Linked DNA regions of Homo sapiens: all the other regions are reported to be linked to region 2. The links are microRNA targets in miRTarBase. Many come from high-throughput screens and were not tested one by one. Region 2 holds a microRNA gene; each other region holds the end of a gene's coding sequence. Distances are from middle to middle.

Region 1 (4,000 bases), not on the chromosome of region 2:
AGTAGCTGGAGCCCCAGTCCCACAAGGAGCTTGGATGTGCGGACAAGCAGGGTGGTGAGTAGAGCCCTCAGGCGGGGTGGGCAGGCAGGAGCAGGGGAGGCTCGCACTGTGCCCAGATTCCCACCCCCCTCCCTCTCTCTGAAGATCTTAGTGGGCTGAGCCTCACTGATAGCATGGAGGCTGCACCGGGAGAGGACAGGGAGGGTTCTCCCCCATGACAACCCCACTGCACAGCAGATCCAGCAGCTGCTTCCTCTAATGCAGGACTCCCCAGGAGCACCCAGGCTTGAGTGGAGAAGCTGTTGGTACAGGAGAGGCGGCAGGAGGAGCAGGAGAGGCTGCATGCCATTCTTTTCGGGCTGCGGAGAACAGGGAGCTAAACATCACCATCATCTAAGAGCGGGTCAAGGAATTGAAAAAAAAAAACAAAACATTTAAGGGGTTAATATCCTACACAATTCATTTACTTCATTTGAATGTTAGAGCCACTTATGTTTATTTGTGTTTCTAATTTATAGTTTAAATTTATTTGTGTTTCTAATTTATAGTTTAAATTTATTTGTGTTTCTAATTTATAGTTTAAATTTATTTGTGTTTCTAATTTATAATTTAAATTTATTTGTAAAAAGTTAAATGAGAGTGGGTGTTTCTCTCATGTTCACTCTGGCATCTTTTAGCATTTTTTTAATTTGATAATTATAGGACGTTAGCATGCATATCGAGTTTGCCCTTATGTGGTGGGAGTTCAAACACACAAAGACCCACTGTATGCACACAACTGTTCTTGCTGGTTTGGGATAGGCTGCCATGCTTTTTGAATGTTAGTACAGCCTGTATATTCATTACGGAATTCAGATAAAATTTCCTTATGTTCTGCTGTTATGTTTGATCGAATCCTAATCACAGTGAGCTCTTCATTAGCTCAATATGCAGTTTGCCCTCAAGTGCGCGGTCTATTACTTTGTAATATGCCACTGTGAGTACTGACATTTACAGTTGTTTAAAGGTGGAGCACTGGAAACAGCCTTTCCCCCTTTTTCTGTGTATTGGGGATGGGAGTAATAACATTTTGGGGAGGTTTTTAAATCTCCCAGAAGAGGAAAGTGGCCTGCTTTGGCAGGTGTGTGCAGGATAGAATATGTTTCATTTGTTCCGGTGCCAAGAATGAGCGCTGTACTACGGTAGTTCCCTTAGGATTTGTATGTGCTCTGGGCTCATGAAGATACTGCCTCATGAGCTGTGGCAGTTGTACTCTTTTTTGATGACCTGAAAAGGGATTATTTCTGAGGAATGAAAGGCTCCCATCATGACTGTGGATGTGGAAAACCTTTTCTAGCTGAGAGCATTTATATCTACAATACATTTTAAAGTCAGCGTTCATGTTCCCTGTTTTAATCACATGACTACATGTCCCAGTACACAAAAGGGCACTGGTTGGCGTTCTCCTTAATGTATTTAGTAAAGATCAGAAGAAATCCTTTAAGAGTTTAAATGCCCCTGGAACAGGCATATACAGGCTCTAGTCAAGAATGAATTCGAGTGAAGGAAAGCTGTGTGACACCTGGCATTCCTCTGTGTTCATGGAGCTTATTTGAGGCTAGAAGATGGATTTTACCATCTAGACCTCTCTGGCTAATAGCTAGTCTTCAACCATCTGACATAGGAATTTACTTCTTTTCCTTGAATGGAGAACACTTTAAAAATAATAACAAACATTATTATAAACTAATATATGTGAGAGTACTTAGTTGAAACAAAAAGGAGTTTTAGTAGACAGTATTATACTACATTTGAAAATCAAGGAGCAGTTTATGCAACGTAAAATGTTTACAAACTGCAGCGCAATCTACTGTTTGTGACTGTCAAAGTGTCATGAGGAAAGTGTCTATACAATCACAGAGTTATATTTCCTCACAAAGTTCTTTACGAAGAGTGAAATATGTTTTTATACCTCTCAGTTTCAGTTAGAGGCATATTTTGTGTAATATTTATGGCTTAAAATGGACTAAAGGTCCTGTTCTTGCCTTGTCTGAACTTGCCGCTTTTGCATTCTTTGAGTTCAGTTTAAAGACACTTACTTTAACTCCATTTTAAACCCTCGGGCTAGAAATCGTACCACTGTTAATTAGCCACGTTATTTGGTCTAACAGTTTTTGTTTATCATTCTGAAACTGAGCTTATCTAATACATTGATAAATTATTTCAAAGGTATTTTTATAGTTCAAATCGCTTCACTTTTACCCTGACACGTATAAATGAATAGGAATGACCTTCAGATAGCGTTTAGCAACTGTAACCAATCTGACAATAATGTGTTCATCAGGTACCTGTGGATTAAATCACATACTGGCATATTTAAGATGAATGTCAGTCTGAAAAATAAATATACTATATTAATTCAAATACGACTCTTTGTGTAGGTATTTTGTCATATGTTTAAGAAAAAGCTAAAGAGAATGGAAATCCTATGACAATAACTCAAGTCTTTCTTCAAAGTGCATGCAGTCTTTTGCAGTACCTCATTCAGCCAAGTATTTGTTCTCTACCTCATTCAGTATAAGGCAGCCTTTAATTTGCTTAGAAGGCAACATTAGAAGGTTAGAGTTCAGCAGGAACATAGAATTTTAAAATGTGACTTCAACTGAATAAATTTGAATTTCTCTAGGGAGTAAAGAATCAAAACACCTATTTAAAGACTGCAAAATATGATAATTATTTTTAAAGTAATTGATTAAACCTGGTAGGTTTTCCCAAAATGAAAAACAATCAGTTCTAAAACCAAAGCTGATTTTTAGAAAATGTGAAAATGTAAATCAACCCTATCCATAATAGATTCTCTAAAACTTTATCTTACAGTCACTTTCAAATAACTATTCAAAAATGTAACTGCTATATTAACGTCTTAAAATAATTTAAAACATTTTAAAATATGAATACTGTAGTTTAAAACAAAGAATCTAGGGGAAGGAAAAGTAGACAAAGAAATGCCAATTCCAGTCCAAAGCTGTATTTGCCAAGTTTTCTTAGAATGACTTTTACCGATTTATGAATTCTTATACACAGAATGCATAATGGAAATACTGATTTTTGTCTAAAGTGGCATTATTGACTGCTTCTGTGATGCTACTGTAATGTAATACATTATTAAATTGTTTCAAGGTGCTGTTTTGCCTAAAAATTTTGTGTGTCTTGAAAACTATAGTATTGGGTATTGAGACTCTGCAAATTCTCGGCATGCTTGGCATGAGGTAATCGGTTTTTATTCTTACAAAATTGTAACTATGTAAGTGTGTTTATTAAAAGAACACAAACTAAAAAAGTTAACAGAAATTAAAGTTGTGGGATGAAAAAGTTACAGGATAAAAAAATACTGTGGAAAAGTGGCAAAAAAAAGTTGTGGAAAAAAAGTAAAAAAAAAGTTTTATGAAAAGTTATTTTAAAAAGTTATGAAAAATTAGTTACAGGATTTAAAAAAAGTCATGGGATAAAAATAAAAATAAATAAAAGCAGGCCCCTGTCAGCATAAGCCTGGAGAAGTGGGTCTGGAGTCTTCACCCCCACCATGTCCCTACAACCCCTCCCCAGTCAGCCCTTTACCATTAGGGTAGCAAGACAAGACCCTTGTCTAATGGAGGGAGACAAACAGACCCTTTACCACCTTGACCAAGGCTGAGTCCTTACATTTCTGGATGATGATGTTTGTTATTTAAGAGCCAGAGGTTGGTGGAGTTGGTTTGTTTGGAGGAGGTCTGACGGCCTTCTTACTCTCACCAAAGCAACTTTTCCCTCAGGGGGGCTCCCATCTTCTTACTCAGAGAGGCAGCTGAGGCGGGACAGTGGAGTTAACTGTAGACCAGGCCAGGGCACAGGCTGCTGGGGGTGGCCCCCCTTCCCCCGTGTACATACTGTAGCTGTGTAACATTCTGTATCGTACCTAGCGGAGGTTGCAGCTGGCATATGAGGAAGAGGTTCTTATAATTATTCGCGGCTGGGAAACTTA
Region 2 (4,686 bases):
TAGTAGAGTGAATTTCAACTTTGCAGTACACTTCCTTCGTCTTTATACTTCATATTTAGACATTGAATCACACTAATATTTTGGTGAAGAACAGTCTAATAACTACAAATATGTCAGGATTATTTATTTGTCTCCATACTTACCCAACCTTCAGTGTTTCAGGGTAAGTATTCAGTTTTCCAAAGCTGACAGAATTGTGGTCAAGAAATATTAGTTGATAATCTTATCCTTTTTCGTGGAACAGCTATCTAAAATTTTACTCTAAAATAATCACAGTATCTTTGTTCACGTAGCAGATGTTTATAATTCGGGTAAAAATGTGCAACTATTTCCAAGAACCTTAGGTTATGGGATCCAACTGTGATTTTTTTTTTTTCTTTAATCTTCGTTGCCCTCTCGTGTTTCAACTCTGTATTACAGTTGGCTAAGACCTAGATGATGACCTCCTTAATTTTTAGATATTTTTGCATTTTAGGCAATGTTGTTTTTAATTTGTGTGTAGGTGGATTGTTTCATTGGATGTTGCTTTTCTGAAGATAAGGTCATTTTCATAGTACGTAAAGTTAATAGTTGAGTTAGATTCACTGTACTTTTATTTTCTGACTTCTGCTGATCTAAAGAATTGATTCATCTACCTGACTTATTTGAAGTACAGTGCTAATATCTAATATGCATATAATGAGTCTTTGAAATTGAGCAAATGCCTAATGAAAACATAATTATTTTTCAAATATCTGTCAAGTTCCACTCATATTGAAATAACTTGAAACCTTATGACATGGAAAAAACCCAAGTGAATCATGGTTTTAATAAGTTGATATTCTGATGCCTGAATTCCAATTTCAGAATCTTTTGTACTTTTTATTAAAAGGAAGAATCATCCCTAAAATGACTTCAGAGTACGTCTCAAAGGTACAGATAATTTAAAAGCAAGTGATGTGTATATGTTATTATTACTTTTTAAAAAGGTATTCTGAAGGTTGTCAGTATCACCATAGGTATAGAATTGACATAAACTATAGTGAAAAATATCAATGTTACTAATTTGAGTACATTCTTAGCACTCAGAGCAAGAGGAATGAAAGTCATTTTTGCTAATGTGCATTTTTCTTCTTAATTATAAAGCCCCACTAGCTTCTGCTTCATGATCTCAGTTACTGAGAAAACTAAAACAAAAAGTAAATGTTTTTAGAAATCCTTTTGTTTGTGTAAACTGAATATCCAGTTGATGGAGTTGGACAGCTAGGGTAGGGTAGAGAAAACAAAGCACTGTGTTCACTCATTTGACATGGTTCTGGACATGGGTTCGCCATAACTTAGCAATATATGATCTCTGGCAAATCACCTAAGTTTTTTTTTTTTTTTTCTGCCTATAAAATGGGGTAATAATATCTAATCTATTTCCAGAATCCTTTTTTGATGAATTAATGAATAATTCATTGCCAGCCCCATAGCGTCTTGTGAAAACCAAATGAGAAAACATATAGAGCAGTTTTGAATGTTTGGCAGATATGAAGTATTATTGTCATGTTTGGTTATGAGCACTTTGAAGACAGGAATCATGTCTTAGTTATCTTTATTTCCTGAACATCTAGAAGAGGGCTTTAGAACGTAGTAGTTCCTCGGTATATATATGAAAAATCAATGATTGAGGTCAGGGAGGCACAGTCAGTGAATCCATGCATGGAAGAGATAAGCTGTGAAATATGCTGGAAGCTTACTGCATATTTGATGTATTAGAGTGAAAACCTAATCATGCAGTTGTTCATCCTCATTAATATGGATAAGTCATGTGTTCATCTTTCATTCTAATTTAATTCAACTGGGCCTTTTAATATTTCAGCCTCACCACTTGCTGGGCTCTGATCCTTCTTTTTCTTCTGCCTCCTCACGTCTCCAACCAGAAGGTGATCTTTTAGTCCTTCACTTCATGGGGAGCCTTCAGAGAGAGTAATGCAGCCACCAGAAAGGATGCCGTTGACCGACACAGTGACTGACAGGCTGCCCTGGCTCAGTTATCACAGTGCTGATGCTGTCTATTCTAAAGGTACAGTACTGTGATAACTGAAGGATGGCAGCCATCTTACCTTCCATCAGAGGAGCCTCACCGTACCCAGGAAGAAAGAAGGTGAAAGAGGAATGTGAAACAGGTGGCTGGGACCCAGAAACCCTCTTACCCTGCACCTCTGTCATACTTCTCCCGGGGCATAGGGAGAGTTATTCTGCTTCTCTTTGCCTTGTTTTGTAACATGGGGTAGTTGTTGGTGCAGCCATGTTGTGCTGAGTGAACATATATTAAGATCTTTGGAACCTTTAGGAGACTGAAAATAGGTAAGTATGAATTAGTATTTCTGGAATGGTATTCAGAGAACTTCGTACCATTTTTATAAATGTGAAAGGTAACCTAATTAGAACAGCTTGGCACTTGTCAGTACACTACTAGATTTCAAAATCAGATTCTACTTACAGGGAGAAAAAAAAAGCCCAATATGTTGAACAGTATTGAAATTGTTGCATAAATAAAAGTCCATCATTGTAGACCAGCTTACTGAAGTGAAGAAAGAAAAAAAGTATATCTTTGTCTTGAAGGAGTAGATAGTGACATGTCATGTTTCTTTCAGGATATTTAGGATCTGGCCTAATTCAAAAGAATATTTACTGAATGCCTATGTTATTGCTGCTGCTGTCACATTTACATGAAAATAAAATGTAAATTATTTTATTTCTATCAAATAAGGACTAGTCTGCAGTGATATCTGGCACATATCGATTTCAGGAATACGAAGCTGTAAACACCAAGCCAGCATCACGTGCATGAAAGACTAGGAAATTTTTTTTTTGTTGCCCACACGGGAGTGCAGTGGCATGATCATAGCTTACTTCAACCTTGATCTCCCAGGCTCAAGCAATCCTCCCACCTCAACCTCCCGAGTCTGAGACTACAGGCTCAGGCCACCCACCTGCAAATTTTTAGTAGAGACAGGAGTTCACTATGTTGCCAAGGCTGGTCTTGACCTCCTGAGCTTAATTGATTCTCCCACCTCAGCCTCCCAAAGTGCTGGGATTACAGGCATGAGCCACTATACCCAGCCAGGATTAGGAAATTTAACAGCACACATCTTCAACCTCCATCTTACTCTAGAGAGTACTGCTGGGGGTGAAAGGTGGTTATTGGAGAACCCAGGATTCTGCCAATGCCAATCTCTGCCAATTATCCCTCTTCCCTGTAGACTCCTAAGGACACTGTACACATGTAACAATAGCAAATAAGAAACAAAGTGCATGACTTGATTATGTGTTAGATCTTAGATCACAGTACTGTGCAAGGAAGGCTCAGGTAATTTCATGGAACGTGTTTTAGGCTCAGAGCCTAATCGGGTATATTACCTCATCCTAGGCTCATGTCTGTATCTGGGAGCCTGTGGATGTCTGACTGGTGTAGGAACCCAAAGCAGTGACCCATATGCTTGAGCAAAGAGAACAGAGATGGCTGAGGTTAGGCTGTAATTTGAACCTACCTACCACAGAGAGAAGAGGGGCCAGGGAGAGAAAAACCATTTGTGACTTTTTTTTTTTTTTTTTTTTTTAAAGAAAGAGTCTCAGTCTGCGGTCAGGCTGGAGTGCAGTAGCTCAGTCTTGGTTCACTGCAACCTCTGCCTCCCGGGGTCAAGTGATCCTTATGCCTCAGCCTGCCGAGTAGCTGGGATTACAGGTGTGCACCACCATGCCCATGTAATTTTGTATTTTTGGTAGAGATGGTGTTTCACCATGTTGCCCAAACTGGTTTCAAACTCCTGTCCTCAAGTGATTCTCCTACCCTCAGCCTCCCAAAGTGCTGAGATTACAGGCATTGAGCCACTGCACCCGGCCTCGTGTGACTTTTTAACATACTGTGAACCTTACCTACTATCAGCCCTGCCAACTGCATGTCTTAGATATGGGTCAGGTGTATTATCAGGTCCTCCACTGGGACACAATGGGGAAGAAAGGGAACTGAAAGGGAGTAGGCCTCGTACAGAGAGGTTCTTTCTTATCCTTCATTGTGCCAGTCCTCAGACATTGATGGTCACTGTGTTCCTTTGCTGGTGATTGCAGTTCCCTTTAGTGTCTCTTCCCTCTGCTCTACCCAAAGAGGAACCATTCTTAGTAGTGATCCCTTGAGCCACACTTGGTTGGCCCAGAACTGTTATTTTTTCAGACACATTGACCACATTATAGCCCAGTACCTTCACATGTCCTCATAGATCCACAATTTCTCTAAGCTATATAAGCTACACTACGTTTTTGATTAATTAGAGAGAGGGGTCTCCCCAGTTATTATGCTACCACTCCTGAAATTCTTTGGAGTTTTCTTAAAAGGAATTTCTGACAGAAACTCTGGAAGAACTTTTAGGAAGGGAAAGTTAGGGATTGGTGAATCCTCAAGTAATTTGAAACACTCCTTATGTTTAGTGTTTGAGCAGGTGGAAAAAAGTGCTTCAAGAAGTTATGTGTTGTGCAATCATTGGCCTTGGTGAAGATTTCACCACCTTCCCTGATCTTCCTGTTTTCCCCGTTACTAGTTTTATAAAAATTCATTGGGTTTTATACTTACCCAACCTTGACCTCAAAATCTACAACCAGGCCTGTGGGGTGTTGAAGAACTGAGTGTTGGGTGTCATTTGCAGTCACCCTGCACTACGGACA
Region 3 (4,000 bases), 57 Mb from region 2:
GCATGAGCCACCACGCCTGGCTGAGTTTGTTAAAATTAAAGGGGAGAATGTTTGCTGCTTAGAGATGTTCTGCAGCTATAATTTATGGAAAATAAGTGTTAAATGATTCAAATAGACAACAAAATATACGTATCTTAAAATTTTTTTTTTAGCATTTATGAGACCAGTACAAACTACTCAAGAGGAAGATGGCTGTAGCTGCCGATTTCCAGAAGAAGAAGAAGGAGGATGTGAACTGTGAAATGGAAGTCAATAGGGCTGTTGGGACTTTCTTGAAAAGAAGCAAGGAAATATGAGTCATCCGCTATCACAGCTTTCAAAAGCAAGAACACCATCCTACATAATACCCAGGATTCCCCCAACACACGTTCTTTTCTAAATGCCAATGAGTTGGCCTTTAAAAATGCACCACTTTTTTTTTTTTTTTGACAGGGTCTCACTCTGTCACCCAGGCTGGAGTGCAGTGGCACCACCATGGCTCTCTGCAGCCTTGACCTCTGGGAGCTCAAGTGATCCTCCTGCCTCAGTCTCCTGAGTAGCTGGAACTACAAGGAAGGGCCACCACACCTGACTAACTTTTTTGTTTTTTGTTTGGTAAAGATGGCATTTCACCATGTTGTACAGGCTGGTCTCAAACTCCTAGGTTCACTTTGGCCTCCCAAAGTGCTGGGATTACAGACATGAACTGCCAGGCCCGGCCAAAATAATGCACCACTTTTAACAGAACAGACAGATGAGGACAGAGCTGGTGATAAAAAAAAAAAAAAAAAAGCATTTTCTAGATACCACTTAACAGGTTTGAGCTAGTTTTTTTGAAATCCAAAGAAAATTATAGTTTAAATTCAATTACATAGTCCAGTGGTCCAACTATAATTATAATCAAAATCAATGCAGGTTTGTTTTTTGGTGCTAATATGACATATGACAATAAGCCACGAGGTGCAGTAAGTACCCGACTAAAGTTTCCGTGGGTTCTGTCATGTAACACGACATGCTCCACCGTCAGGGGGGAGTATGAGCAGAGTGCCTGAGTTTAGGGTCAAGGACAAAAAACCTCAGGCCTGGAGGAAGTTTTGGAAAGAGTTCAAGTGTCTGTATATCCTATGGTCTTCTCCATCCTCACACCTTCTGCCTTTGTCCTGCTCCCTTTTAAGCCAGGTTACATTCTAAAAATTCTTAACTTTTAACATAATATTTTATACCAAAGCCAATAAATGAACTGCATATGATAGGTATGAAGTACAGTGAGAAAATTAACACCTGTGAGCTCATTGTCCTACCACAGCACTAGAGTGGGGGCCGCCAAACTCCCATGGCCAAACCTGGTGCACCATTTGCCTTTGTTTGTCTGTTGGTTTGCTTGAGACAGTCTTGCTCTGTTGCCCAGGCTGGAATGGAGTGGCTATTCACAGGCACAATCATAGCACACTTTAGCCTTAAACTCCTGGGCTCAAGTGATCCACCCGCCTCAGTCTCCCAAGTAGCTGGGATTACAGGTGCAAACCTGGCATGCCTGCCATTGTTTGGCTTATGATCTAAGGATAGCTTTTTAAATTTTATTCATTTTATTTTTTTTTGAGACAGTGTCTCACTCTGTCTCCCAGGCTGGAGTACAGTGGTACAATCTTGGATCACCGCCTCCCAGTTTCAAGTGATCTCCCTGCCTCAGCCTCCTAAGTAGCTGGGACTACAGGTATGTGCCACCACGCCTGGCTAATTTTTATATTTTTAGTAGAGACGGGGTTTCACCATGTTGTCCAGGCTGGTCTCAAACTCCTGACCTCAGGTGATCTGCCCACCTCTGCCTCCCAAAGTGCTGGGATTACAGGCATGAGCCACCATGCCTGGCCATTTCTTACACTTTTGTATGACATGCCTATTGCAAGCTTGCGTGCCTCTGTCCCATGTTATTTTACTCTGGGATTTAGGTGGAGGGAGCAGCTTCTATTTGGAACATTGGCCATCGCATGGCAAATGGGTATCTGTCACTTCTGCTCCTATTTAGTTGGTTCTACTATAACCTTTAGAGCAAATCCTGCAGCCAAGCCAGGCATCAATAGGGCAGAAAAGTATATTCTGTAAATAGGGGTGAGGAGAAGATATTTCTGAACAATAGTCTACTGCAGTACCAAATTGCTTTTCAAAGTGGCTGTTCTAATGTACTCCCGTCAGTCATATAAGTGTCATGTAAGTATCCCATTGATCCACATCCTTGCTACCCTCTGGTACTATCAGGTGCCCTTAATTTTGCCAAGCCAGTGGGTATAGAATGAGATCTCACTGTGGTCTTAGTTTGCATTTGCTTGGTTACTGATGAGCACCTTGTCAAATATTTATATACCATTTGTGTTTATTTTTTTAAATAAAATGCTTGCTCATGCTTTTTTGCCCATTTGCAAAAAAACTTGGGGCCGGGTGCAGTGGCTCATGCCTGTAGTCCCAGCTCTTTGGGAGGCCAAGGTGGGCAGATCGCTTGAGCCCAGGAGTTCGAGACCAGCCTTGGCAACATGGCGAAACCCTGTCTTTACAAAAAATACAAAAATTAGCCGGGTGTGGTGGTGTGCACCTGAAGTCCCAGCTACTCAGTAGGTTCGCTTTGAGCCTGGGAGGCAGAGGTTGCAGTGAGCTGGGACCGCATCACTACACTTCAGCCTGGGCAACAGAGAAAAACCTTTTCTCAGAAACAAACAAACCCAAATGTGGTTGTTTGTCCTGATTCCTAAAAGGTCTTTATGTATTCTAGATAATAATCTTTGGTCAGTTATATGTGTTAAAAAATATCTTCTTTGTGGCCAGGCACGGTAGCTCACACCTGTAATCCCAGCACTTTGCGGGGCTGAGGTGGGTGGATCATCTGAGGTCAAGAGTTCAAGATCAGCCTGGCCAACACAGTGAAACCCCATCTCTACTAAACATGTACAAAACTTAGCTGGGTATGGTGGCGGGTGCCTGTAACCCCAGCTGCTCCAGAGGCTGTGGCAGAAGAATCGCTTGAACCCAGGAGGCAGAGGTTGCAGCGAGCCAAGATTGTGCCATTGCACTCCAGACTGGGTGACAAGAGTGAAATTCTGCCTATCTATCTATCTATCTATCTATATCTATATATATATATATATATATCCTTTGTAATTTATTTTTCCCTTTTTAAAATTTTTTATAAAATTCTTTTTTATTTTTATTTTTAGCAGAGGTGAGGTTTCTGAGGTTTCATTATGTTGCCCAGGCTGGTCTTGAACTCCTGAGCTCAAGTGATCCTCCCACCTCAGCCTTCCAAAGTGCTGGAATTGCAGACATGAGCCACCGCGCCCCTCCTGTTTTTCTCTAATTAATGGTGTCTTTCTTTGTCTTTCTGGTAATAAGCAAAAAGTTCTTCATTTGATTTGGTTAAATTTATAACTGTTTTCTCATATGGTTAACATTTTTTCTTGCCTGGCTAAAGAAATCCTTTTCTGCCCAATACTATAAAGAGGTTTGCCCACATTTTATTCCAAAAGTTTTAAGTTTTGTCTTTCATCTTGAAGTCTAATGTATCAGGAACTGGCTTTTGTGCCTGTTGGGAGGTAGTGATCCAATTCCATGTCTTGCATGTAGGTAACCACTGGTCCCTGCGCCATGTATTCAATACGTCGTCTTTCTCCTGCGGGTCTGCAATCTCACCTACCATCCATCAAGTTTCCATAGGGCCATGGGTCTGCTTCTGGGCTCCCTGTTCTGTTCCATTGTCAATTTGTCTATCCTGTGCCAGTATCACACTGTGTTTATTACAATAGCTTTGTAACAGCTCTCGATATCCGGTAGGACATCTCCCTCCACCTTCTTTTTCTACTTCAGAAGTGTCTTAGCTAGGTCAGGCACGGTGGCTCACGCCTGTAATCCCAGCACTTTGGGAGGCCGACGCGGATGGATCACCTGAGGTCAGGAGTTTTGAGACAGCCTGGCCAACATGGTGAAACCCCATCTCTACTAAAAAATACAAAAATTAGTCAGGCATGGTGGCATG

The links. The annotated mature microRNA hsa-miR-3671 reads AUCAAAUAAGGACUAGUCUGCA and lies in region 2 at 2,728-2,749, shown strand. An mRNA with a match to its seed (bases 2 to 7 or 8) in the 3' UTR can be bound and repressed. Matches are read on the target gene's strand: a 7mer-m8 pairs with bases 2 to 8, a 7mer-A1 pairs with bases 2 to 7 and ends in A, and an 8mer does both.
Region 1: the mRNA of GOLGA6L4 is a reported target of hsa-miR-3671. Seed matches in the 3' UTR shown: 7mer-A1 at 471-477, 7mer-m8 at 1,589-1,595, 7mer-A1 at 1,789-1,795 and 7mer-A1 at 2,650-2,656.
Region 3: miRTarBase lists TNFRSF9 as a target of hsa-miR-3671. The part of its 3' UTR that is shown has no 7-base or 8-base seed match.

What each region holds. Positions count from the first base shown.
Region 1 is chr15:84,242,196-84,246,195 of GRCh38, forward strand. It overlaps GOLGA6L4 (golgin A6 family like 4), which reads left to right. Exons shown (of 9, transcript NM_001267536.3): 8 at 1-54; 9 at 265-3,163. The coding sequence ends at 397. Among named protein-coding and RNA genes, the nearest start is that of GOLGA6L4, 8.4 kb to the left of the region's middle.
Region 2 is chr1:65,055,825-65,060,510 of GRCh38, reverse strand. MIR3671 (microRNA 3671) reads left to right here and starts at 2,669; the gene lies at 2,669-2,756. MIR101-1 (microRNA 101-1) reads left to right here and starts at 2,003; the gene lies at 2,003-2,077. It also overlaps a transcript of JAK1 not described here.
Region 3 is chr1:7,917,076-7,921,075 of GRCh38, reverse strand. TNFRSF9 (TNF receptor superfamily member 9) reads left to right here. Exons shown (of 8, transcript NM_001561.6): 8 at 153-4,000. The coding sequence ends at 241. Among named protein-coding and RNA genes, the nearest start is that of TNFRSF9, 22 kb to the left of the region's middle.